Regions from separate parts of the Homo sapiens genome. Here all the other regions are linked to region 3. The links come from fine-mapping of genetic effects on gene expression. A gene starts in region 3. Each other region holds a variant in brackets. All regions are shown on one strand. Distances are from middle to middle.

Region 1 (10,507 bases), 110 kb before region 3:
CACTTGAGGTCAGGAGTTTGTTATATACAAAGTTTCGGTGCCGCAAAAGAAATAGCCCGAAAATATAAAATTTTGTTTTTAATTCTCAGCAAGGCAAGGTACTTCTATAGAAGGGTGCGCCCTTACAGATGGAGCAATGGTGAGAGCACACTTGGACAAGGGAGGGGAAGGGGTTCTTATCCCTTTCGCACGTGGCCCCTGCTGCTGTGTCATTCCCCTATTGGCTAGGGTTAGACCGCACAGGCTAAACTAATTGCCATTGGATAATTTAAAGAGAGTGACGGAGCGAATGGTTTGGCGGGAAAAATGGTTATTACAGAGCAGGTAATCGAAAGAGTCAGGGTGGAGTAGGTAATTGAAAAAGGTTGCTTTATGAGGAAGTTAAGTTTAAAAGTAGAAGGTAAAGAATTGAACATACTGACATATTGAATCTTTGAAAAGAAATTTGGAACTCATATCTAACAAGTTGGAGACCAGCCTGGCCAACATGGTGAAACCTCGTCTCTACTAAAAATACAAAAAGTAGCTCGGTGTGATGGCACGTGCCTGTTCCCAGCTACACGGGAGGCTGAGGCAGGAGAATCGCTTAACCCTGGGAGGCAGAGGCTGCAGTGAGCCGAGATCGCGCCACTGCACTCCAGCTTGGGCAACAGAGTGAGACTCCATTTAAAAAAAAAAAAAAGTGTACAATTTGGTAAGTTTTGGCAGTCCGTCACTCTCTGCTTTCTGTCACTGTATTATTTTGCATTTTCTAGAGTTTTACACACATGGGATCATCATTATATAACATTATTTTTTATGACATTATCCTCCATTTTGGATTTATGATAATTTCATTTAATCTATGCCCTATTTTGGGGCAAGTAGATTGTTTCCATTTGTTTTTTGTTGTGTTTTGTTTTGTTTTTTGAGACGGAGTCTCGCTCTGTTGCCCAGGCTGCTGTGCAGTGGCGCGCGATCTCGGCTCACTGCAACCTTCACCTTCCGGGTTCAAGCGATTTTTCTGCCTCAGCCTCTCCAGTAGCTGGGACTACAGGCGCGCACCATCACGCCCAGCTGATTTTTGTGGTTTTGGTACAGACGAAGTTTTACCATGCCAGGCTGGTCTCGAACTCCCGACCTCGTGATCCACCCACCTTGACTTCCCAAAGTACTGGGATTACAGGCGTGAGCCACCGCGCCCAGCCTGTTTCCTGGTTTTTAAGTATAATCTCAGAATAAATATTTTTTGATGCAAAATATCTATGTAAATCTATTACTACTTTTCTAGGACACGAGCCCTCAGTCAGGCTGGTGGGAATATAAAATAATCCAGCCACTGTGAATAATAGCCTCAAAATGTTAAACACAGAACTACCAAATGACCCCAAAATTCCATTCCTAAGTGGAATTCCACTCCTATGCTCAAGGAAATTTAAGACATATGTTCATACTAAACCATGTACACAATGTTCACTTTAATGAGCTGAGTTGTGACTGTCCACCATCCATATGTTGAAGTTCTAACTCTCAGTCCCTCAGAATGTGGCTGTATTTGGAGACTGGGTATTTAAAGAGGTAATTAAGACAAAATGAGGTTATTAGGATGGGCCTTAATCCAATATGACTGGAGTCCTTACAAGAAGAGGAAATTCAGGGCAGGCGCGGTGGCTCACGTCTTTAATCCCAGCACTTTGGGAGGCTGAGTCAGGTAGATCACCTGAGGTCAGGAGTAGTGAAACCCCACTCCAGGATGGTTTCCTGGGATGAGCAGGCATCTGCTTTCACCAAATCTTGCATCGCCAGGGGCAGATGGCTGAGAGAAGAAAATTGACCCAGTTGGAACAGAAACTCACAATGCTATCCTTGCGGGTGAGGCTCGCAGTAAAAAGGAATCGCCCAACGTGGGGCTCGAACCCACGACCCTGAGATTAAGAGTCTCATGCTCTACCGACTGAGCTAGCCGGGCGACACGCCAACGTTACCTTAGTGGATTTCTAGATTACAGCAGAGTCCAGGACCAGGAGTCTTCAGTGTCGGGACTACACTGTAGAACACAGTTGCTCCGCAGTAAGCGTTGCCCTCAGGCCTGCCCCAAAGGCGAGGCGCAGCAGGAGGCCCCCGAGGTAGCTGGATCTGGGTCTTTCTCTGCGTCAGAGGCCCACCCGCGGACGCCCCACAGGCCGGCACCTCCTGAGTGTCAGGGTGACTGGCCCTGGCACCCGCCCCGACTCAGGGCTGTGGAAGCGGGTCTGACCCGTGGATTCCTCGTTCACACGAAATACCTTTGCTGAGCCCCGACTTCGAGCCCAGCCAGATCCCATGGAGGCAGCAGACCCTGGGCATCCAGCCCCGTTGGAGGGTGTGGCACAGAGCCGCAGCTGCCAAACTGGAGCAAGAAATTGTTGTGACTCCTGCCCAAAGGATGGGGGTGGGGGTGGGGAAGAGGGAGGGACTGCAGGAACTGCGAGGCACCCCGGAAAGAAAACCGTGTCCCCACCAGGGGGAGGTGGGCTGGGGTGGGCTGGGTTGCAGGGGGCCGGGAGAAGGTGGGAGGCGGCCGGCAGTGACGGCGGGAAGCAGACAGGAAACCTCCGTGACCCAGCGGCCTCCTGCGCTGGGTTCCTTGCCTCGCGTCCCACCTGGGCAGGTGACGGTTTCCCGTTCCTTTCTAGGACCCTTAGCCTTTGCCGCTGCTGTTCGGCTGAAGAAGAATTCCCTAGCCAGGTTCGGTGGCTCACGCCTGTGATCCCAGTACTTTGGAAGGCCGAGGGGGTAGGATCGCTTGAGCCCAGGGGTTGGGGACCAGCCTGGGCAATATAGCGAGACACCCGTCTCTACAAAAAATAAAAATTTAAACATTAGACGGGCGTGGTGGCGCGCGCCTGGAGTCCCAGTTACTCGGGAAGCTGAGGCTGCAGTGAGCTATGATTGCACCATCGCACTCCAGCTTCGGCAACAGGGCAAGACCCTGTCTCAGAAAAAATAAAAATTAAAAAAAAAAAAAAGAATCCCCCCCTGAGCCCTCAGCACTTGCATCTCCCCAGGTTCGAGTCTCCTCCTTGGCAGGGCTGTGCGGGCGGCGGCTTCAGGCGCTCCGTGGACTCTGTTTTTCCTGGCTCTTCTGTTCTCACTCCACGCTGAGGTCCTATTTCTTCCAGGACCCCAGAGTTCAGCCAGGAGGGGGCGCCCCTCAAACCCTACGTCCAAGGTTTAAGGGAGATGCCTGAGAGGGCTCAAGTCACATGCCTGAGAGTAAGGGGTGGGGGGAGTGGAGTCTCATCTCGACCCACCTAGCTAGCCAGACTGGGGCAGGCTGTTATGCTGCCGTGGTGGTCGGGCCTTGCCGCCCGGAGGAAGGCTATCCGGACAGGAAACGAGCAGTTTAAAAAAGAAAAGAAAAAGTGGGAGGGGCTGAGGGCAGCTCTAACCTCAGCAGGTTTTTCCAGCAGCGAGAGGGGAGTGTGTATGGGGTGACCCCTCACGTTCAGCCCCAGCACTGGGGCTTCGACCTGGGCTTTCCGTTTTTTTACTTCTTCTTGGGCTGGTGAATCACCATACCAAACACCTGGAGGATTTGCTGTATCAGCTAGGCTCTGGAAAGAAGAAACAAAACCATTAGAAGAGATACTTGAGACGGATGACGCTTATGTGTACACGTGCATGGATGTGTTGCTATTTTTACTAGATTTATTTAAATGAATTGGCACATGTGATCGGGCAAGTCTGAAATGTATAGGCTGGGCAGCCAAGAGTTAATGTGGAAGTCTTCAAGCACTGTTCTACATGCTTTACCAAAACATGAAGAAATTTTAATACTCGAATTAATCTTTTAATTGCCATTATCCTCACATTACAGATGTGTAAGCTGGGGCCTTTGAGAGCCTCAATTTTGTGGGTCCATGTTTGTGGGGTGCAGATGAGGGATGGGGAGCCTGGTCCTGTCATCTTTCCCTCTACCCCTAAAAGAACTGTCCGAGGCCGGGAGCAGCGGCTCATACGTGTAATCCCAGCACTTTGGGAGGCCGAGGCTGGCGGATCACCTGAGGTCAGAAGTTCGAGACCAGCCTGGCCAACATGGTGAAACCCTGTCTCTACTAAAAATACAAAAAATTAGCCGGGAGTGCTGTTGAGTCCCTGTAGTCCCAGCTACTCGGGAGCCTGAGGCACGTGAATCACTTGAACCCGGGAGGCAGAGGTTTCAGTGAGCCAAGATCACACCATTGCACTCCAGCCTGGGTGACAGGGACTCTGTCTCAAATAATAATAATAATAATAAAATAGCTGGGCGCGGTGGCTCACGCCTGTAATCCCAGCACTTTGGGAGGCCGAGGTGGGCAGATCACGAGGTCAGAAGTTTGAGACCAGCCTGGTCAATGTGGTGAAACCCTGTCTCTGCTAAAAGTACAAAACATTAGCCAGGTGTGGTGGCGGGCGCCTGTAATCCCGGCTACTCAGGAGGCTGAGGCAGGAGAATCACTTGAACCCAGGAGGCGGAGGTTACAGTGAGCCAACCAAGATCGCACTGCTGCACTCCAGCCTGGGAGACACAGTGAGAGTCCGTCTCAAAAAAAAAAAATTTAGCCAGGCGTGGTGGCACCCACCTATACTCCCAGCTACTCAGAAGCTGAGGAA[A/G]GAGAATCTCTTGAACCCTGGAGGCACAGGTTGCAGTGAGCCGAGATGGTGCCAATGCACTCCAGCCTGGCAACAGAGCGACACCTTCTCAAAGAAAAGTATAATTATATAATACAATTATATTATTATGATATAATCATATTATTAATATAATTATATGATACATATATACTACATATAATATATAAACACATATAAAATATATATGTTTAGATATAAAACATATGTTTTTCATATGTGTGTATATTATTCAATACTGTAGACACGAAATCTAATTTCCATGTGTAATGAGAGAATGAGATATCTTATTTTTTTGGTACGAAGTCTTCAAAATCCCGATGTGTATTTTGTACTCACAGCAGCACATCTCAAGGGGACCAGCCATATTTCAAGTGTTTAAGAGCCATATGTGGCTCCTGGGCACCTTCCTGGCTAGCGCAGCAGGGGGCCATCGGGTCAGGCAGCTTTGACCTGCTCTCAACGAGCTTCATCTGTGACTCCGCCTTGGCCTGCAGAGATGTGGGTTTCTAGGGCGGGGAGGGGAGGTCGAGGAACGAGTAGCTCTCCAGGGCCCGCCCAGACCGTGCACACTACTCGATCACTCAGAACCCAACCACCGGCCTCCACCATACCCGGAGCCCATGTGGAGCTGAGCGACCCGGGCTGCAGAGGGTACAGCTTCTCTGGTCTGGGGTTGGGAAGGAGAAGGGCGCGGGACTCCCTCGAGGCTGAGGCAAGTGCCGACCAGGCCAGCCTCAGGAGCATCCTTGTCCCTTGTAGCTGAGGCACAGACCTGGACCGACCTGAAGCGGAGCAACGCGACTGGTAGTTGAGGCTTCAGGCTCGGTCCCCGATTTTCTAGCTCTATATTCTCTAAAATGACAAGGGAAAAGTAACCACTTCTAGGGCTCGTCCGGGATTTGAACCCGGGACCTCTCGCACCCGAAGCGAGAATCATACCCCTAGACCAACGAGCCTCCCGTGCGTGTATTTCCGCTGACATTTCAGACACCTGCCACCAATCCGGCACAAATCGGCTGATTCCGAAGTGGATAGAGCTCATCGCCGTCCCCAAGTGATTGGCAGAATTCTGGGGTCGCTGCGGGGAGACCCTGGTGAACCAGCCCCTTGGAGACAGAGCCCATCCACACTGGGCTTGGTAGGGGATGCTCAGGGTCAGGCCTGCAGCCTGGGGCTCCCCGCTGTATTTTCCCCTGCGCCGGGGTTACCGGGTCTGCGCTCACACCTGGGGCTGCTGACTCATACCCAAGGCCTTGCCCTAGGAGGATGGCTGAGCGGCCAGCCCACCTTTCATCCGACTGCGCCGGTGGTTGGCTCCATCCCAGAGGCGCCCCCATAGCCTCCCTCGGATGGAGCCCAGCGCCTCTGCCCTGACTCAGACGTTAGCTCTGCCCCCGTGTCTTCCTCTGTCAGCAAGAGCTGAAAAAGTTCCAGGAGGTCACTGGGGATGAGCAGCGACGGCAAAGGGCATCACAGCGACACACACTCGCTCCGTTTCTGTTTCTCTCTCACTCTCTCTCCAGGCGCTGTGGTTTTGCGGTTATGATTAGGGTGAGAGTGGGCCTCAGGGTCAAATCCTGTTGGGCCAATACCGCAACACCTTTTGAATCCTTCTTTAAGGACCTGAGCAGGTTGGAAAGCCAGTGGACGCGGCCTGGATGTGGAGAGGATCCAGCGAGTTCCGCGTGTGGTGGGCGAGAGGGTCCTGCCCATCGCCACAGGCCGCCCGCCCTATTTTGCCCTAGATCAACCCCACCCCAGACCTGAGCGCTGTCCCACTCCGGGGACTCCCTCCTCCCCTCTGGTTGGGCTTCTCGCTGCCGCGATCGTGGGCTCCCGGCCACGCTCCTAGAGCTGGCATCGACGTTTATGGAGAGCGGAGAATACGAAGTCTTGGGTTCCAGAAAGATAAGGCGCGGGGCGGGAGGGGGGTGAGGGAGTGGAGGAGCAAAGATGGTGCTTCCCGCCACCGAGGCCTGTTGGTCTAGAGGTATGATTCTCGCTTTGGGTGCGAGAGGCCCCGGTGCGAGTCCCAGAGGAGCCCAGCCTGCCGTGATCAGCTGTTGTTTGTTAGCCTGGTAAATCCAGCGCGCAAGAACAAGAATGGAGCGAATGAAAGAATCTTTCACAGGCAAAGCCGGCGCTTCCTCCCTCTCCTACCTTCTTCGGTTTCTCAAACTGCAGGATGAGACCCCACCAGGCGGGGCCTTGGGCCCCGGGCCCGGGTTTAAGAACCCGGAAATCAGCTCACCGCCAGCCACCTCCTGGATCCAGGACTGAGTACTCTGGACAGCGCGCGACCGGCCGTTTTTCTTCTTTTAGGAAAGGACTGCGGGTACAGGTGCTTGACTGAGGGTGGGAGTGAATGAAGACGGTGTCCGGGGACCCGGTGGCCGCAGCCAACTCAGTCTCCGCGTCCCTCGCTTGTTGGTCTAGAGAAGTAAGCGAACGCGATGGACGCCTCCCCCGGCAGGAGCCTCTGTACTGGGCGGGGGCAGGGGGGCTGCCCAGCCCCAGCGGATGGAACCCGGGCACCTGGTCACGCCGCCTCCCAGATTCCGGGGCGCAATGGGCTCAGAGGCTCAACTTCCTTCTCTCTTTAATCCCCTTCCCTCGCGGGGATCTGAACTGAACCTAGGACAGTTCTGAAGTTAACACCCCTCTTCCAAAGTAAAAGACCCAGACCATATTTTAATTCTTTAAAAAAGAACAAGTCGGCCGGGCGCGGTAGCTCACGCCTGTAATCCCAGCACTTTGGGAGGCCGAGGCGGGCGGATCACGAGGTCAGGAGTTCAAGACCAGCCTGCCCAACATGGTGAAACCCCCATCTCTACTAAAAATACAAAAAATTAGCCAGGCATGGTGGTGCATGCCTGTAGTCTCAGCTACTCGGGAGGCTGAAGCAGGGGAATCGCTTGAATCCGGAGGTGGTGGTTGCAGTGAGCTGAGATGGGGCCACTGCACTCCAGCCTGGTGACAGAGCAAGACTTCGTCTCAAAAACAAACAAACAAACAAAAAAGAACAAGTCAAGCTGGGCAGGGTGGCTCATGCCTGTAATCCCAGCACTTTGGGAGGCCTAGGCGGGCAGATCATTTGAGGTCGGGAATGAGACCAACCTAGCCAACATGGTAAAACTCCGTCTCCACTAAAAATACGAAAATTAGCTGGGCTTGGCTGCATGCACCTGCAATCCCAGATATTTGGTAAGCTGAGGCAGGAGAATCATTTGAACCCGGGAGGCGGAGGTTGCAGTGAGCCGAGATCACGTCACTGCACTCCAAGCTGGGCGACAAGAGCAAGACTCCGTCTCAAATAAACTAAAATAAAATAAAATAAAATGAAAAAGAACAAGTCAGGTCTAGATTTATCTACATGGAGTCAAATTTTTTATTCTCAAAGATCACAGGCGTCGTGTGTTAAAGCATGCATCTAATTTTTTGGTGGGCACAATAGTAGGCACAAAATAAAGAGCACACAGTTCAAAGTGAAGATTGACAATAACCAAGAAAAATACCTTTGAAAAACAGCCAGTGTTCATTTTCTGGCATTGATGCTGAGCCACAGTTATGGAAGTCTTAGGGGATACTGGGTGAATGCTACACAAGAGTTTTCTGTACTTTTTTTTTTCTTTTTGACCACTTACTGTGAATCTATAATTGTTTTAAAATAAAAAGTAAATAGGCTGGCCCAATGATGCACATCTGTAATTCCAGCATTTTGGGAGGCCGAGGAGGGAGGATCACTTGATCCCAGGAGCTCAAGACCATCCTGGGCAACATAGAAAGACCCGGTAGCTAAATTTAAATAAATCAATCAGGCCGGCTACGGTGGCTCATGCGTGTAACCCCAGGACTTTGGGAGGCTGAGGCGGGTGGATCACTAGAGGTCAGGACTTAAAGACCAGCCTGGCCAGCATGGTGAAACCCTGTCTCTACTAAAAATACAAAAAATAGTCTGGCGTGGTGGCACACGCCTGTAATCCCAGCTACTCGGCAGGCTGAGGCAAGAGAATCGCTTGAATCCGGGAGGTGGAGGTTGCAATGAGTTGAGTTCACGTCACTGCATTCCAGCCTAGGTGACAGAATAAGACTTCATCTAAATAAATAAATAAAATTAGCTGGGTGTGGTGGCACAAGTCTGTTGTTTCAGCTACTTGGAAATCTGAGGTAGGAGAATTCCTGAGTCCAGGAGGCTGAGACTGCAGTTAGCTACGATCACACCACTGCACTCCAGCCTGGGCAACAAAGCAAGACCCTGTCTTGGAAAAATAAAATAAAATGAATAGACTTTCAAAAATTACAGGCTGTCATAAGGGTGTTGTCATATATAGATGAGTTCCTGACATGGGAACAATGAGTCTAGGAGTGACATTTAAGCTGAGACAGGAGAGAAAATACGGGGCCAGTCAAGAAAGAGGAGGAAGAACAGCATTCCAGTCCAGGAACTGGTAACTGATGGGAGTTGAAGCAAAGAAGGAAAATAATTGGCTGGACGCAATGTCTCACAAGACGATCCCTTGAGCTCAGGAGTTTGAGACCAGCCTAAGCAACATAGTGAGGCCCCATCTCTACAGAAAACACACAAAAAAATTAGCTGGTGCATGAGGTGGGAGTATTGCTTGAGCTGAGAAGGTTGAGGCTGCAGTGAGCTGTGTTCTCACCACCATGCTGCAGCCTGGGTAACAAAGTAAGATTCTGGCTGGTCACGGTGGCCCATGCCTGTAATCCCAGCATTTTGGGAGGCCGAGGCTCACCTGAGGTCAGGAGTTCGAGAGAAGCCTGGCCAACATAGTGAAACCCCAACTCCACTAAAAATACAAAAATTAGCCTGGTGTGGTGGGCACCTGTAATCCTAGCTACTCCAGCTACTCGAGAGGCTGAGGCAGAGAGAATTGCTTGAACCCGGCAGGTGGAGGTTGCAGTGAGTGGAGATTGCACCACTGCACTCCAGCCTGGGTGACAGAGCAAGATTCTGCCTCTAAAACAAACAAACGATTAATGCAGGTGTGAATTGCATCAAGCGCCCTTCCAAACATTAAGATCACCACATAGCTTCTTTTTTATTCTGTTAATATGATGAATTATTTTGATAATTTTCTTGAATTTAGGCCAACCTTGTACTCTTGGAATATACCTAGTTCAGCCTTTATTTGATAGCTCCAGTCTTTCTTTTTTTTTTTTATTTCTATTTATTTTTATTTTTTTGAGACGGAGTCTTGCTCTGTCACCCAGGCTGGAGTGCAGTGGTGTGATCTCAGCTCACTGCAAGCTCCGCCTCCTGGGTTCACGCCATTCTCCTGCCTCAGCCTCCCCAGCAGCTGGGACTACAGGCGCACGCCGCCACGCCCGGCTAATTTTTTGTATTTTTAGTAGAGACGGGGTTTCCCCGTGTTAGCCAGGATGGTCTTGATCTCCTGACCTCGTGATCCGCCCGCCTCGGCCTCCCAAAGTGCTGGGATTACAGGCGTGAGCTACCACGCCCGGCCTGATAGCTCCAATCTTTCTAAAAAGACTCAATGACAATCACAGGATAGCCCTATCCCCTCCCTGAAAAATGTCCAGGATTGATAGCTTCGGACAGAAGAGTGGGCACCAGTCCGCAATCCACCCCTGGCTCTGCAACCCTCACAGGCCAAGGATACAAGTGACCCCAACCCCATTCCCCATGTATCGCTGTGACACAAGGTCATGGTTATAAGGCCCCAAGAGCCAACATCCTCGAGGTGGGATTCGAACTCTGACCAGAGGCTGAGGCGATGGTGCTGCATTATTGGGACCTGCGCTGGTGAGGTGCCTGTAGCCTTTTGTCCCAGCCTCTGATCTGCCTTCCTCAGGGCCCCCAGACTGCCTCAGCACCCCCACTGGGAAATGT
Region 2 (5,938 bases), 30 kb before region 3:
GCACTTGGCAAAGGGAGAAGTGATTGTTTCGTGCGTGGGCTGGACTGGGATGAAATGAGCTTAATCGCCAGACACTCAGTACCTGCCCGCTGCTCCTGCACGGCAATGGATGAGCAGTGATTAGTTTTCTTGTTATTTTGTGCATGCTACTAAAAACCAGTGAAACGTAATCCCATTTTCTTCCCCCTCCCCCACTCTTTTTTTTTCTTTTCTTTTCTTTTCTTTCTTTCTTTCTTTTTTTTTTTTTTTTTTTTGAGACAGGGTCTTCGCCTTTTATCCAGGCTGGTGTGCAGTGGCGCGAACATGGCTCACTGCAGCTTTGACCCCCCAGGTTCAAGCAATCCTTCTGCCTTGGCCACCCAAAATGCTGGGATTATAAGCATGAGCCACCGCATCCGGCCTCACAACACCATTTTTCTGATCATTTATCACAGACTTTTTCTGTCCTAGACGTTGTTACATGCTTTCCTTCGAGATGGCCAGAATCACTGCCATTCCCTAATTTCTGCTAACAGACACTGAAGCAACTTCAAGTGCTGGATGAACACTCATTGAACTAGACACAGCTCCTACTCCCAGGCCAGGCAGAGAAATACGCTCATCTGTGATTGAGGCACTCCATCGCCCTAGTGGGGAGAGATGGGGTGGGAGGATGGGGGCTGCCTGGAGTGGATGCCAGAGGGCAGGAAAGCGTAGTTCCGGCTCGGGGGTGGTTACACTCTCACACATGCAGGGGTTGAAATCTGGATTTCTCACTTTGTCTTCGCTTATCTGGCCCCACCCTGTCCCCATCCACCTCCCAAACTGGGAGCTTGAGGGTTAACGCTAGGAAGCCCCTCAACACCTGGATGGGATGGGACTGGGGCAGGGAACTTCCCGTTCCATTTTGTCAGAGTCCTTCCCCAGGTGGCTGAGGTTGGGAGATGCAGGGGAGCCGGGGTAGGGGTGAGGGGCTTGGAAGATACTGTGTGTTGCAGGGAGGTTGGGAGAGATGGGTCATGTTCTAGAATCACCTCCCCTCCTTCTCAGCGGCTAAGCTTAAAATCCCCCATTCTGTACCACAACACCACCCCACCTGAGGAGGTTCAGGGAACCCTCAGGCTCATATTAAGGGGGTACAGCAAACTGTCCAAGGCTCTCAACTAGGCCATCGTTACCAGGGAGAGGCTGCCCAAGGCTGAGTTACTTTTTTTTTTTTTTGAGACAGATTCTCATTCTGTTGCCCAAGCTGGAGTGTAGTGATGCAATCTCAGCTCACTGCAACCTCTGCCTCCTGGGTTCAAGAGATTCTCCTGCCTCAGTCTCCCGAACAGCTGGGACCACAGATGCATGCCACCATGCCCGGATAATTTTTTTTTTTTTTTTTTTGAGGCAGAGTCTAATTCTGTCGCCCAGGCTGGAGTGCAGTGGCACGATCTCGTCTCACTGCAACCTCCGCCTCCCAGGTTCAAGCAATTCTCCTCTCTCAGCCTCCTGAGTAGCTGGGACTACAGGCGCATGCCATCACGTCCGGCTAATTTTTGTAATTTTAGTAGAGACAAGGGTTTCACCATATTGATCAGGCTGGTCTCGAACTCCTGACCTCAGGTGATCCATCCACCTCGGCCACCCACACTGCTGGGATTACAGGCCTGAGCCACTGCACTCGGCCACTGGGTTACCTTTTTGCTGAGCCTTAGTGTCCTCGGCTGTAGAATGGGTCAGTGATGGGCCCAACAGAACTGTGAGTCACTGTTTGCTGCGGTGCTTGGTGTTGTAATCAGCAGCAATGAGAACAGTAATAGCTCGTGCTCATGGATGCCTACTGTGTGCCAGCCACTGCATGCTGGACAGTGCCCTGTGCCATTCAGGTGAGTGGAGTGGTGCTTCAGGCTTTCTTCACATCCCCCTACCTGGGGTGCCAACTGGGAGTGGAGGGTGGGAGGCTCTAGGAGAGGTTCACTTGTAGCCCTGAGGCTAGAGAACAGGAAGGGCAGAAAGCAGAGGGCAGGAGCCTGGATTTCCATGTCTATAAAATGACCCCTGCCTGAAATAAAATGTAAAAGAGACTCAAACAAAAATATGAGCCTGCTCTGCTCTGCTCAGAAAAGCTTAAATCATCCAGCCTCAATTAGTTGAGCAGGGCTGAACTGAGTCCCCTGTGGGTGGGGCCGAAATTTCGGAGGTTCCCCATGGGTAGTACTGGGCTACCAGACCAGGAAGGGGAAGCCCCACAGCCCTAGATTGGGAGGAGGTTGGGGGAGGATGTCAGTGCCTCCTGGTGGCTATA[G/A]ATGACTTATTTTATATTTTTTATTTTTTGAGACGGGCTGGCACTGTCGCCTAGGCTGGAGTGCAATGTTGCAGTCACAGCTCACTGCACTGCAGCCTCAACCTCCTGGGATCAAGCAATCTTCCCACCTCAGCCTCCCAGGTAGCTAGGACCACAGGTATACACAACCATGACTGGCTAAATTTTTTTTTTTTTTTTTTGAGATGGAGTCTGGCTCTGTCGCCCAGGCTGGAGTGCAGTGGCGCGATCTTGGCTCATTGCAAGCTCTACCTCCCTGTTTCACGCCATTCTCCTGCCTCAGCCTCCTGAGTAGCTGGGACCACAGGCACCCGCCACTGCGCCCGACTGATTTTTTTTATTTTTATTAGAGACGGGGTTTCACCGTGTTAACCAGGATGGTCTCGATCTCCTGACCTGGTGATCCACCCTCGGCCTCCCAAAGTGCTGGGATTACAGGCGTCAGCCACTCAGTGCCCCCAGCAACTGGCTAAATTTTTAATTTTTTTTTTTTTTGAGACGGAGTCTCGCTGTCGCCCAGGCTGGAGTGCAGTGGCATGATCTCGGCTCACTGCAAGCTCCGCCTCCGGGGTTCACGCCACTCTCCTGCCTCAGCCTCCCGAGTAGCTGGGACTACAGGTGCCCGCCACCACCCGTGGCTAATTTTTTGTATTTTTAGTAGAGACGGGGTTTCACCATGTTAGACAGGATGGTCTCGATCTCCTGACCTTGTGATCTGCCTGCGTCAGCCTCCCAAAGTGCTGGGATTACAGGTGTGAGCCACCACACCCTGCCCTACATTTTTAATTTTTTTAGAGACGGGGGTCGTGCCATGTTGCCCAGGGCTGGTCTTGAACTCCTGAGGCTCAAGTGATCCTCCTGCCTCAGCCTCCCAAAGTGCTGGGATAACAGGCGTGAGCCAGCCCCGCTAACCTTTCATTTTGAAAATTCGAAAACATCCAGAGAACTTGAAAGAGCAGTGAAATGAACATTCATATATGTATCTCATATATCAGGCCCCTTCTCCAAACTCTTCAGCGTCTTCTAAGAACTCAGCCATTTCCTATATATTACAAGACTAGACTTTCATCTCAGAAATGGGTAGTCATACTGTTATCATCTAGTATCCCCACCATACTCACCATTTTCCGACTGGCCCCAGGATGTCTTTTAAAGCCTTTAAGAAAAATGAATGAGGATCCAATCTAGGTTCACCCACTTAGTTGTGAGGACTCTTTGGGCTCCTGTCCACCAGCGCCTCCTACAGGCACTTACTTTTTATGACACTGAGTAACTCAGGCCAATTTCTTTGAGAGATGGTCTGACTTGTTCCATATTCCCTGCAAGGCCCTAAACATTGGAAGTTGGATCTAAAGGCCACCATTAGGTCGGGCGGGGTGGTTCATGCCTGTAATCCCAGTACTTTGGGAGACCGAAGCGGGCGGATCACCTGAGGTTAAGAGTTTGAGAGCAGCCTGGCCAACATGGTGAAACCCCATCTCTACTAAAAATACAAAATTAGCGGCATGCGGTGGCGCGTGCTTGTAATCCCAGCTACTCACGAAGCTGACGGACGAGAATCACCGGAACCCGCGAGGCGGAGGTTGCGGTGAGCCGAGATCTTGCCATTGCACTCCATCCTGGGCAACAAGAGTGAAACTCCATCTCAAATAAATAAATAAATAAAGGCTGGTTGGATTGAGATTAGGTATTTTTGGGCTAGGCACAGTGGCTCACGCCTGTAATTCCAGCACTTTGAGAGGCTGAGGCAGGTGGATCACTTGAGCCCAGGAGTTTGAGACCAGCCTGGGCAACATAATGAGAACTCGTGTCTACAAAAAATAAATAAAATTAACCCAGCATGGTGATATGCACCTGTAGTCCCAGCTACTCGGGAGGCTGACGCGGGAGGATCACTTGAGCCCAGCAGATCAAGGCTGCAGTGAGCCGTGATTGCGCCACTGCACTGCAGCCTGCGTGACAGAGTGAGACCCTGTCTCAAAAAAATAAATAAATTACTTAATTAAATTAAAAATTTAAAAAACAGGCTTGGTGCAGTGGTTCACGCCTTAATCTCAGCAATTTGGGAGACTGAGGTGGGCTGATCACTTGAGGTCAGGAGTTCAAGACCAGCCCAGCCAACATGGTGAAACTCTTGTGTCTACTAAAAATGCAAAAATTAGCTGGGCGTGCTGCCACAGGCCTGTAATCCCAGCTACTGTAAACCCAGGCTGAGGAATGAGAATCGCTTGAACCTGGGAGGTGGAGGCTGCAGAGAGCTGAGATCATGCCACTGCACTCCAGTCTGGGTGATATAGCAAGACTCCATCTCAAAAAAAAAAAGAAAAAAAAAAGCTTTAAAAAACAAACTTTTTTGGCCAGGATCCATCTTGATGGTGCCATGTGCTCCCAGTGGCTACATCAGGAAGAAGGGAAGGGCAGGGTGTTTCTCTTTCAGGGATGGTCACTTTAATCACTTGGGAAAAGTGATGCAAATTTCTTTTTTTTTTTTTTTTGATCTGAGTCTCGCTCTGTCACCCAGGCTGGAGTGCAGTGGCGCGATCTCGGCTCACTGTAAGCTCCGCCTCCCAGGTTCACACCATTCTCATGCCTCAGCCTCCCCAGCAGCTGGGACTAAATTAGCCTGGCTAATTGTTTTGTATTTTTAGTAGAGACGGGATTTCACCGCGTTAGCCAGGATGGTCTCGATATCCTGACCTCGTGATCCACCCGCCTCGGCCTCCCAAAGTGCTCGGATTACAGGTGTGAGCCACTGTGCCCGGCCAAGTGATGTAAATCTCTAAATGCTTTAAGGAGGGATGATAATACAGAACTGTCAGTTTTCTCTGGCCTTTGCTTTGTTGGTAACCCTGAGACCGGGGGCTGTCCTGCCCTCGTGAGCCATTACCCAGTGAGAAAAGCGATTCCTCTGGGTCTGCGTATTGGGTGTCTTTTAACATGGATGACCCAGGTATGGGGCCAGCTTCCTCGCAGCAGATCCTAACCCAGGGTGTTCACCTTCGCAGGTGTGGGAGGAGAGGAGAGAGACCCAAGAGCGGGGCTGGCGTTAGGGAGGCATCCCCGCAGTGAAGGATGCTTGGAGAATCAGTCCCAGCTGCCGTGGAGCAGGAGCAGCTGGGGGAAGTCAAGCTGGAGGAGGAGGAGGCTGTCAGCCCAGAGGACCCCAGGCGACCAGAGTCCAGGCTGAGGCCCGAGGTGGCTCACCAGCTGTTCAGATGCTTCCAGTATCAGGAGGACATGGGGCCACGGGCGTCCCTGAGCCGGCTCCGGGAGCTCTGCGGCCACTGGCTGCGGCCGGCTCTGCACACCAAGAAACAGATCCTGGAGCTGCTGGTGCTGGAGCAGTTCCTGAGTGTGCTGCCTCCGCACCTCCTGGGCCGCCTGCAGGGGCAGCCGCTCAGGGATGGGGAGGAGGTGGTGCTGCTGCTCGAGGGCATCCACCGGGAGCCCAGCCACGCGGGGCCGCTGGTGAGAGGGTGGGGCAGCGGGCTGAGCAGCATGCGGATGATGGGGACTTGATCCCCCCAGTGAGGAATCTCTGGAAACTTCACTTTCCCCCACCTGACCATTCCTTCTTCACCTCCTAACTCCTCCCCTGGCTGACTCTAACCTCGTTTCTGTCCCATGTCCCCTCGGAGTCAGGACACAGGT
Region 3 (6,684 bases):
GAAAGAAAGAAAGAAAAGACAGGGCAGAGGTGAAGGAAGGCAAGGTGCCCAGATGGGTGTGTCATACTCACTGGGTGCTGCTCCTCATAATAAGCCGCCACTGTCTCCAGGTAGCCCTCTTTGAAGTCGTCCTGGGGAGAGGAGGGCACAGGGGGTTCATGCTGCTCCTGCCTGCCCCCTTCCCACTGTGGCCCCCACTGGTCCAGGTGATTCCCAAGGGGACCCGGGGCCCAGACCCAGTGTCCTGTGGAGCCTAAGACCCAGGGACTAAGCTTGGTGGAGGGGGAGGCCACGGCTCACCTCCAGCTCTGCCAGGCTCGACATCACCTGTTAGGAACAAAGCACTCGGTTCCAGGCCCAAGCCTCCTCTGCACCCCACATCAGTCAGTCCTCAAGCCCAGTGAGTCCTCAGCTCCCACACACCCCGAACTGGGCCCAGCCAGGGGCCCGGGCCACGTCTGGCACCCCTGTTGTTTCCTCAAGGAGCCCTGGGGCTTGGATGCCTCCCTCAGTCTCCCCGGGCGTCCAGATCCCCCACCCGCCCACTCACTGCCACCCAGGTGCAAGCATTTGCCCACGGTAAGGGGTGAGGGAGCCTGTGGGTCCCTCTTCATCCTTCTCACCCTGAGCCCCACACAGGGTGGAGTGCCTGGGGGCGGGGACATGTGACCTGGTGCCTGAGGGGAAATCCACCCACCTGTCCACGTCCTGATTCTGCATTTTGCATTTTATCATAAAATCTTTCTATGGCCTGGTGCTGTGAAGAGAGGCAGAGTTGGCACCAAAGGGCCGGATCCTTGTCCCTCCAGGGTCCCAGGTGTCCCACAGTGTCCTCAGTGTCACACGCTGAGACCCAGGCCCCCAACCCCTGAGCAGAAGTAGGGAGGAGCATTACCATTCGGGCCTTCAGCTTCTTCATGTCATCAGAGAGGACCTGCGGAAATAACGGTGACACTCAGTCTCCATGTGTCACCTTAACCTTTCCTCCAGGATAATTTATACACACACACACACACACACACACACACACACACACACAGAGACACATGGCAGAGGTACAGGATAAGAGGAGACAGCAGTCCCAGGAGCCCCTCACAGCCTGGAAAGACCGGCCAGGGCTGTCCTCGAAACGACTCAGAAAGCGCTTCTCTCAGGAGCCGGCTCAGCTGGGCAGGCCCAAGAGCAGGGCCAGCATGGGCCTAGGTGACCCCTCCTCACAAGAGCAGGGCCTGCGTGGGCCTAGGTGACCCCTCCTCACAAGAGCAGGGCCTGCGTGGGCCTAGGTGACCCCTCCTCACAAGAGCAGGGCCTGCGTGGGCCTAGGTGACCCCTCCTCACAAGAGCAGGGCCTGCGTGGGCCTAGGTGACCCCTCCTCACAAGAGCAGGGCCTGCGTGGGCCGGGGTGTCCTCCCTGCACACACACACCCCCCCATGTACACACACGGGAGGATGGACACTGTCCTGGAGCAGGCTGGCTCAGCTGGGTTTCCCACAACCACTATGGTCCCAGGTGAGAGTTGGCCAAGGAAAAAATGTTTAGGGACATGACAATTGAGAAGGTAACAGCAGCCATTCCTCTCTGATGAGCTGATTAATATTTGGGGTGCCAGGTAGGTCCACCCTACAACCTGCCACTCTTCCCGACTGCCAACATGCAGACCCACAGGTCCCGGGCCATTCCTGCCTGCAGACACGTGGCTGCATCCACAGAGGCCAGAGGCACCCCACAGAATCCCCGCTGAGCCCCCACGTCAAGGGCCTAGTCTCGGGGGTGACATGCCTGGTTTCCCCCACTATAGAGTGGTGACAGTCACCCACAGAGTGCGCAGGGCCTGGGGACATATTCTGGGCAGGGCAGCTGTCTGCACACTTTCAGGCAGCGATGGTCCCATCCCGCTAGCCTGATTTCCCAGGAACCAGGGTGAAAGCAGCACCGTGCCGACATGCGGGAGCCATGTGTCCTCCGGGTCACTGTCCTGAACCTGAGCCAGGCCACATCATGGAAACCCCTATTGTCACAGGCCGAAGAGCTCCCTGGAGGGTGTGGTGGGCCTAGCATTTGCGGTGGGGCAGTGGTAGAGGATGGGAGGTCGGAGGGAACCCAGGAAAGGAGGAAGAGACACCAGGACCCACACAGGCCTTGCTCTTGGGCCCACCCAGCTGAGCCGGCCTCTGAGAGAAGCATTCTCCGAGTCGTTTCCAGCAGAGCCCTGCCCCACCCCTGCCCCGGGCTTTCCGGGCTGTGAAGGGCTCCTGGGACAGGTGCTCCCTCTCATCCACACCCCTGCCGTTCTCCAGCGCCCCCGACACATATGACCTCCAGCGCCTCCACTGACACTCTCACCCCATCACTATCCTCCTGCCGCTGGGTGCCCCTGACTGAGCCCTGACACACAGGCACCTCGGGAAATACTGAGGGCACCCGCACCCTTACGGTCTGTTTTCAGACATGCCCACAAAAGCACACGCAGCCTCTCACTCACCTTCGGGAAGCACATGGCGGCCAAAAGTTCAAGGAGCCAAGGCCTGCTGGCGAGGAACAGGTGTGAGGAAAAGAAAGTGTCTCAGAGAAGCACCCTCCTCCCCAGAGGGTCCTCACCTTCGGGGACCCCAACTCCCCACCTGAGATGACCCAGCTCCACTGAGACAGTCACCTTCTGCACGCAGTCTTCCTGGCACAAATACTCAGCTGGTTTTATGGGGAAAGTGGGGGGTAGTGGGCGGAGCCTCTCTCAGGGCAGGAGGCCTTGCTGAGTGCGTGAAAAACAGACAGAGACAGAGACAGAGACAGAGACAGACAGAGATGGAGACTTACCCGAGAGAGACAGAGGTCTGGGGTCCCTGGGAGGAATGAGGGTCCGTCCCTGGCTGGGCCCCTGCTCCCTCTGAGCTGGGGTGGGAGTCTCTGAGCCCAGGAATGGGCTGCTTTCCCCACCCCACCAGCCTGAGAGTGGGGAGGGGCAGAGGGAAAGTCCAGACTCGGGACAGCTGGCTGGGGAAACTCCCTGAGTACAGGAAGGTGACGTCAGCCAAGTGGGATCCAAGGACAAAGGAATTTGGACCCTGTCCTTGCATGAGGTGTGCCCCGGCTCCAGAGGCCAGAGAAACTTCTGGATCAGAAGGAGGCAGGAACTGCCGGACCTAAGAGGGGCGCCGTGAGGGCAGGGGCCTGTGCACGTTGGAGGGGTGGCTAGTGGTGATGTAGATCTACCTGTGGGACAAGATAGGACCCTCTGCAGGGTGGAAGGCATCCTGCCGGCTGTCTGAGCTTGGCTGACCAGGTCCTTCTGACCCTTCTGGGCCAAGGCAAGGCCATCTGGGGCCGAAGGTCACTGGTCTCAGCAATCTTGGGGCTCCCCTACGGGCTCTTCTAGCTCCACGGGTTCTGACCCTCCAGCCTGGCTGGGCCTCCCACCTCCTCCTCACGGCCCCCAGCCCCCTTCCCCCAGCTGAGCACAACCACGCCCTTGCCTTTGGGATGGTTTCCTGGGGCCAAACTAAGGAAGTACCACGACAAGGGGCCCTAAGTCGAAGACGTCTCTTCCCTCACGATCTGCAGGCTGGAGGTCCAAGGTCAATGTGGGCAGCGTGGGGTCCTTCTGAGGGCCCGGAGCTGGGATTCTGTTCAGGTTTCTCCTGCCCTTGTAGATGGCCATCTTCATCTTCATCACGTTCTGCCTGGGTGTGACTGTCCCCCTTTCCCCTTTCCAAAGGACACCAGTCATATTGAAATAGGGTCCACCCTAGGCCGGGCGCAGTGGGTCACGCCTGTAATCCCAACACTTTGGGAGGCCGAGGCGGGCAGATCACCTAAGGTCAGGAGTTCTAGACCAGCCTGGCCAACATGGTGAAACCTTGTCTCTACTAAAAATACAAAAATTAGCCTTGCGTGGTGGCCGGCACCTGTATTCCCAGCTACTCGGGAGGCTGAGGCAGGAGAATCACTTGAACCCGGGAGGCGAATGTTGCAGTGAGCTGAGATGGTGCCACTGCACTCCAGTCTGGGGGACAACAATGAAAATTCCCCTCGGAAAAAAAAAAAAAAGAAGTAGGATCCACCCCAGTGACCTCATTGTACCTTAAGTACCTCCATAAAGACCCTGTTTCCAAATAAGGGCATATTCTGAGGTCCTGGGGCTTAGGAATTCAGCATGGATGCAATGTATCCCATTATATTCTCAAAGGGGACTCGGAGAGACAGAACCTATAAAACACGCTCCATGGAGAAATCTTCCCTTGGGTGAAGTAGACAACGGTTGTCACCTGCCTGCCACTTAGGAGTCCATTCCACTGTGCGCAACCGCCTTTCCACATACAGGATGTCCAGATCTTTCCCTGAGTATCCTCTGAATTGTAGTGGGAGACAGAAGGAAGCCACTCCTGCACCAGCTAAAAGTCATGCTTTAGGCTTCAGCTCCAACCCTAGCCCCTCATGACTCTCAAAGGCCACCATCTGAAGACATCTTGGGATCCACCCAGACTGTATGTACCCTGTTTTTATAGCTTTATGGTGATGCAATTTACAGGCAATGCAATTCACTCATTGAGCTGTACAATTCAAAGCACAGAACTGTGCAGCTATCACCACAACCCATTTTAGAACATTTTTATCACCTCTAAGAGAAATTCTGCCCTTCTGAGACATCACTGCCAGTCCTCATTTCCCTGGATAACCACTCATCTACTTTTTCTTTTTCTTTTTTTTTCTTAGAGTCTCGCTCTGTTGTCTAGGCTGAAGGGCAGTGGCACGATCTCGGCTCACTGCAACCTCTGCCTCCTGGGTTCAAGCAATTCTCCTGACTCAGCCTCCCGAGTAGCTGGGATTACAGGCACGTGCCACCACACCCAGCTAATTTTTGTATTTTTAGTAGAGACGGGGTTTCACCATGTTGATGAAGGAGTCTCGAACTCCTGACCTCAAGTGATCTGCCCGCCTTGGCCTCCCAAAGTGCTGGGATTACAGGCATGAGCCACTGTGTCTGGCCTCATCTACTTTCTCTCTCAATGGATGCCTCTCTCCCAGACATTTCCTATAAGTAGAATTATACACTAGGTGATCTTCTGTGTCTAGCTTCTTTCACTGAACATGCTATTCTTGAGGTTCATCCGTGTTGTAACACGCATTATTCCTTCATTCCTTTTTCTGGCTGAATAATATTCTACTGTGTGGATAGACCACATTTGGTTTCTCCATTCACCCCTCGAAGGACATTTGGGTTCTTTCCACTTTTTGGCTAATTCCGAATAATGCTGCTATGAACATTCACGTACAAGTTTCTGTGCAGACGTATGTTTTCACTTCATATGTATGAAGCAGAAGAATAGCTGGGTTACATGGTAAATGTGTTTTTATCCTTTTGAGGAACAGCCAGACTATTTTTCAAAATGTCTGTCATTTTACATTCCCAGCAGCAGTGTGCGAGGGTTCCCGTGTCTCTACAACCTCAGCAATACTTGTTATTCTCTGTGTCTTTTCAATTCCAGCCATCCCAATGGGCTGAAATGGTATCACGTGACAATTTTTTTTTTTTTTTTTTTTGAGGTGGAGTCTTGTTCTGCCACTCAGCCTGGCCTAATTTCTGTATTTTTAGGAGAGATGGGATTTCACCATGTTGGCCAAGGAGTCTCGAACTCCTGACCTCAAGTGATCTGCCCGCCTTGGCCTCCCAAAATGCTGAGATTACTGGCATGAGCCACTGCGTCTGGGCTTATCTACTTTCTCTCTCAATGGATGCATCTCTCCCAGAGATTTCTTATAAGTAGAATTATACACTACGTGATCTTCTGTGTCTAGCTTCTTTCACGGAACATGCTGTTCTTGAGGTTCATCTGTGTTGTAACACGGATCAGTCCTTCATTCCTTCTTCTGGCTGAATGATATTCTACTGTGTGGATAGACCACATTTGGTTTCTCCATTCACCCCTCAAAGGAAGTTGGGGTTCTTTCCCCTTTTTTGCTATTCTGAATAACGCTGCTGTGAACATTCACGCAAAAGTTTCTGTGCAGACTTATGTTTTCACTTCTCTTGGATACGTATGAAGGAGAAGAATAGCTGGGTTACATGGCAAATGTGTTTTTATCCTTCTGAGGAACAGCCAGACTATGTTTCAAATTGTCTGTCATTTTACATTCCCAGCAGCAGTGCCCGGGGGTTCCTGTTTCTCCACATCCCCAGATACATTTGTTATGCTCTGTGTCTTTTTAATTCTAGCCATCTTAGTGCGCTGAAATGGTACCATGTGACAATTTTTGTGTTTCTTTTTTTTTTTTATTTGATGCAATCTCGCTTGGTCTCCCAGGCTGGTGTGCAGAGGCACGATCTCGGCTCACTGCAACCTCCAACTTCTGGGTTCAAGCGATTTTCCTGCCTCAGCCTCTCAAGTAGCTGGGATTACAGGCATGCGCCACCACGCCTGGCTAATTTTTGTATTTTTAGTAGAGACAGGGTTTCACCATGTTGGCCAGTTGGTCTAAAACTCTCAAACTCAAGTGACATCTGCCTCTCAAACGTCTGCATCAGCCTCCCGAAATGCGGGATTACAGGCATAAGCAACCGTGCCCAGCCAATTTTATTTTTATTTTTATTTTTTTGAGACACACCTGTTGCCCAGGGTGGAGTGCAGTGGCGTGATCATGGCTCATTGTTGCCAAGACTTCCCGGCTTCAGGTGATTCTCTCCTCT

What was found. PIP is the estimated chance that this variant, and not a neighbour inherited with it, causes the effect. A credible set is the group of variants that fine-mapping cannot tell apart.
Region 1: its variant is the best candidate, but not a certain one, in a credible set for the expression of IL32 in whole blood (TOPMed, PIP 0.80).
Region 2: its variant is the best candidate, but not a certain one, in a credible set for the expression of IL32 in whole blood (TOPMed, PIP 0.60).

The regions. Positions count from the first base shown.
Region 1 is chr16:3,167,132-3,177,638 of GRCh38, reverse strand. It overlaps TRP-CGG1-2 (tRNA-Pro (anticodon CGG) 1-2), which reads right to left and starts at 5,591; the gene lies at 5,520-5,591. TRK-CTT2-5 (tRNA-Lys (anticodon CTT) 2-5) reads right to left here and starts at 1,948; the gene lies at 1,876-1,948. It also overlaps the pseudogene TRP-TGG4-1. RefSeq lists enhancers at 4,679-5,418, 5,606-5,655, 5,676-5,745, 5,419-6,159, 6,056-6,205 and 2 more and a silencer at 1,881-1,980. The variant A/G (reference allele first, on the strand shown) is at 4,615.
Region 2 is chr16:3,092,359-3,098,296 of GRCh38, reverse strand. It overlaps ZSCAN10 (zinc finger and SCAN domain containing 10), which reads left to right. Exons shown (of 6, transcript NM_032805.3): 2 at 5,293-5,755. The coding sequence starts at 5,360. Among named protein-coding and RNA genes, the nearest start is that of ZSCAN10, 4.0 kb to the left of the region's middle. RefSeq lists silencers at 3,556-3,625, 5,117-5,310 and an enhancer at 4,996-5,583. The variant G/A (reference allele first, on the strand shown) is at 2,270.
Region 3 is chr16:3,061,627-3,068,310 of GRCh38, reverse strand. IL32 (interleukin 32) reads right to left here and starts at 2,671. Exons shown (of 7, transcript NM_001376923.1): 1 at 2,624-2,671; 2 at 2,485-2,527; 3 at 896-934; 4 at 698-757; 5 at 301-327; 6 at 72-131. The coding sequence starts at 2,499. RefSeq lists enhancers at 10-529, 2,868-3,177.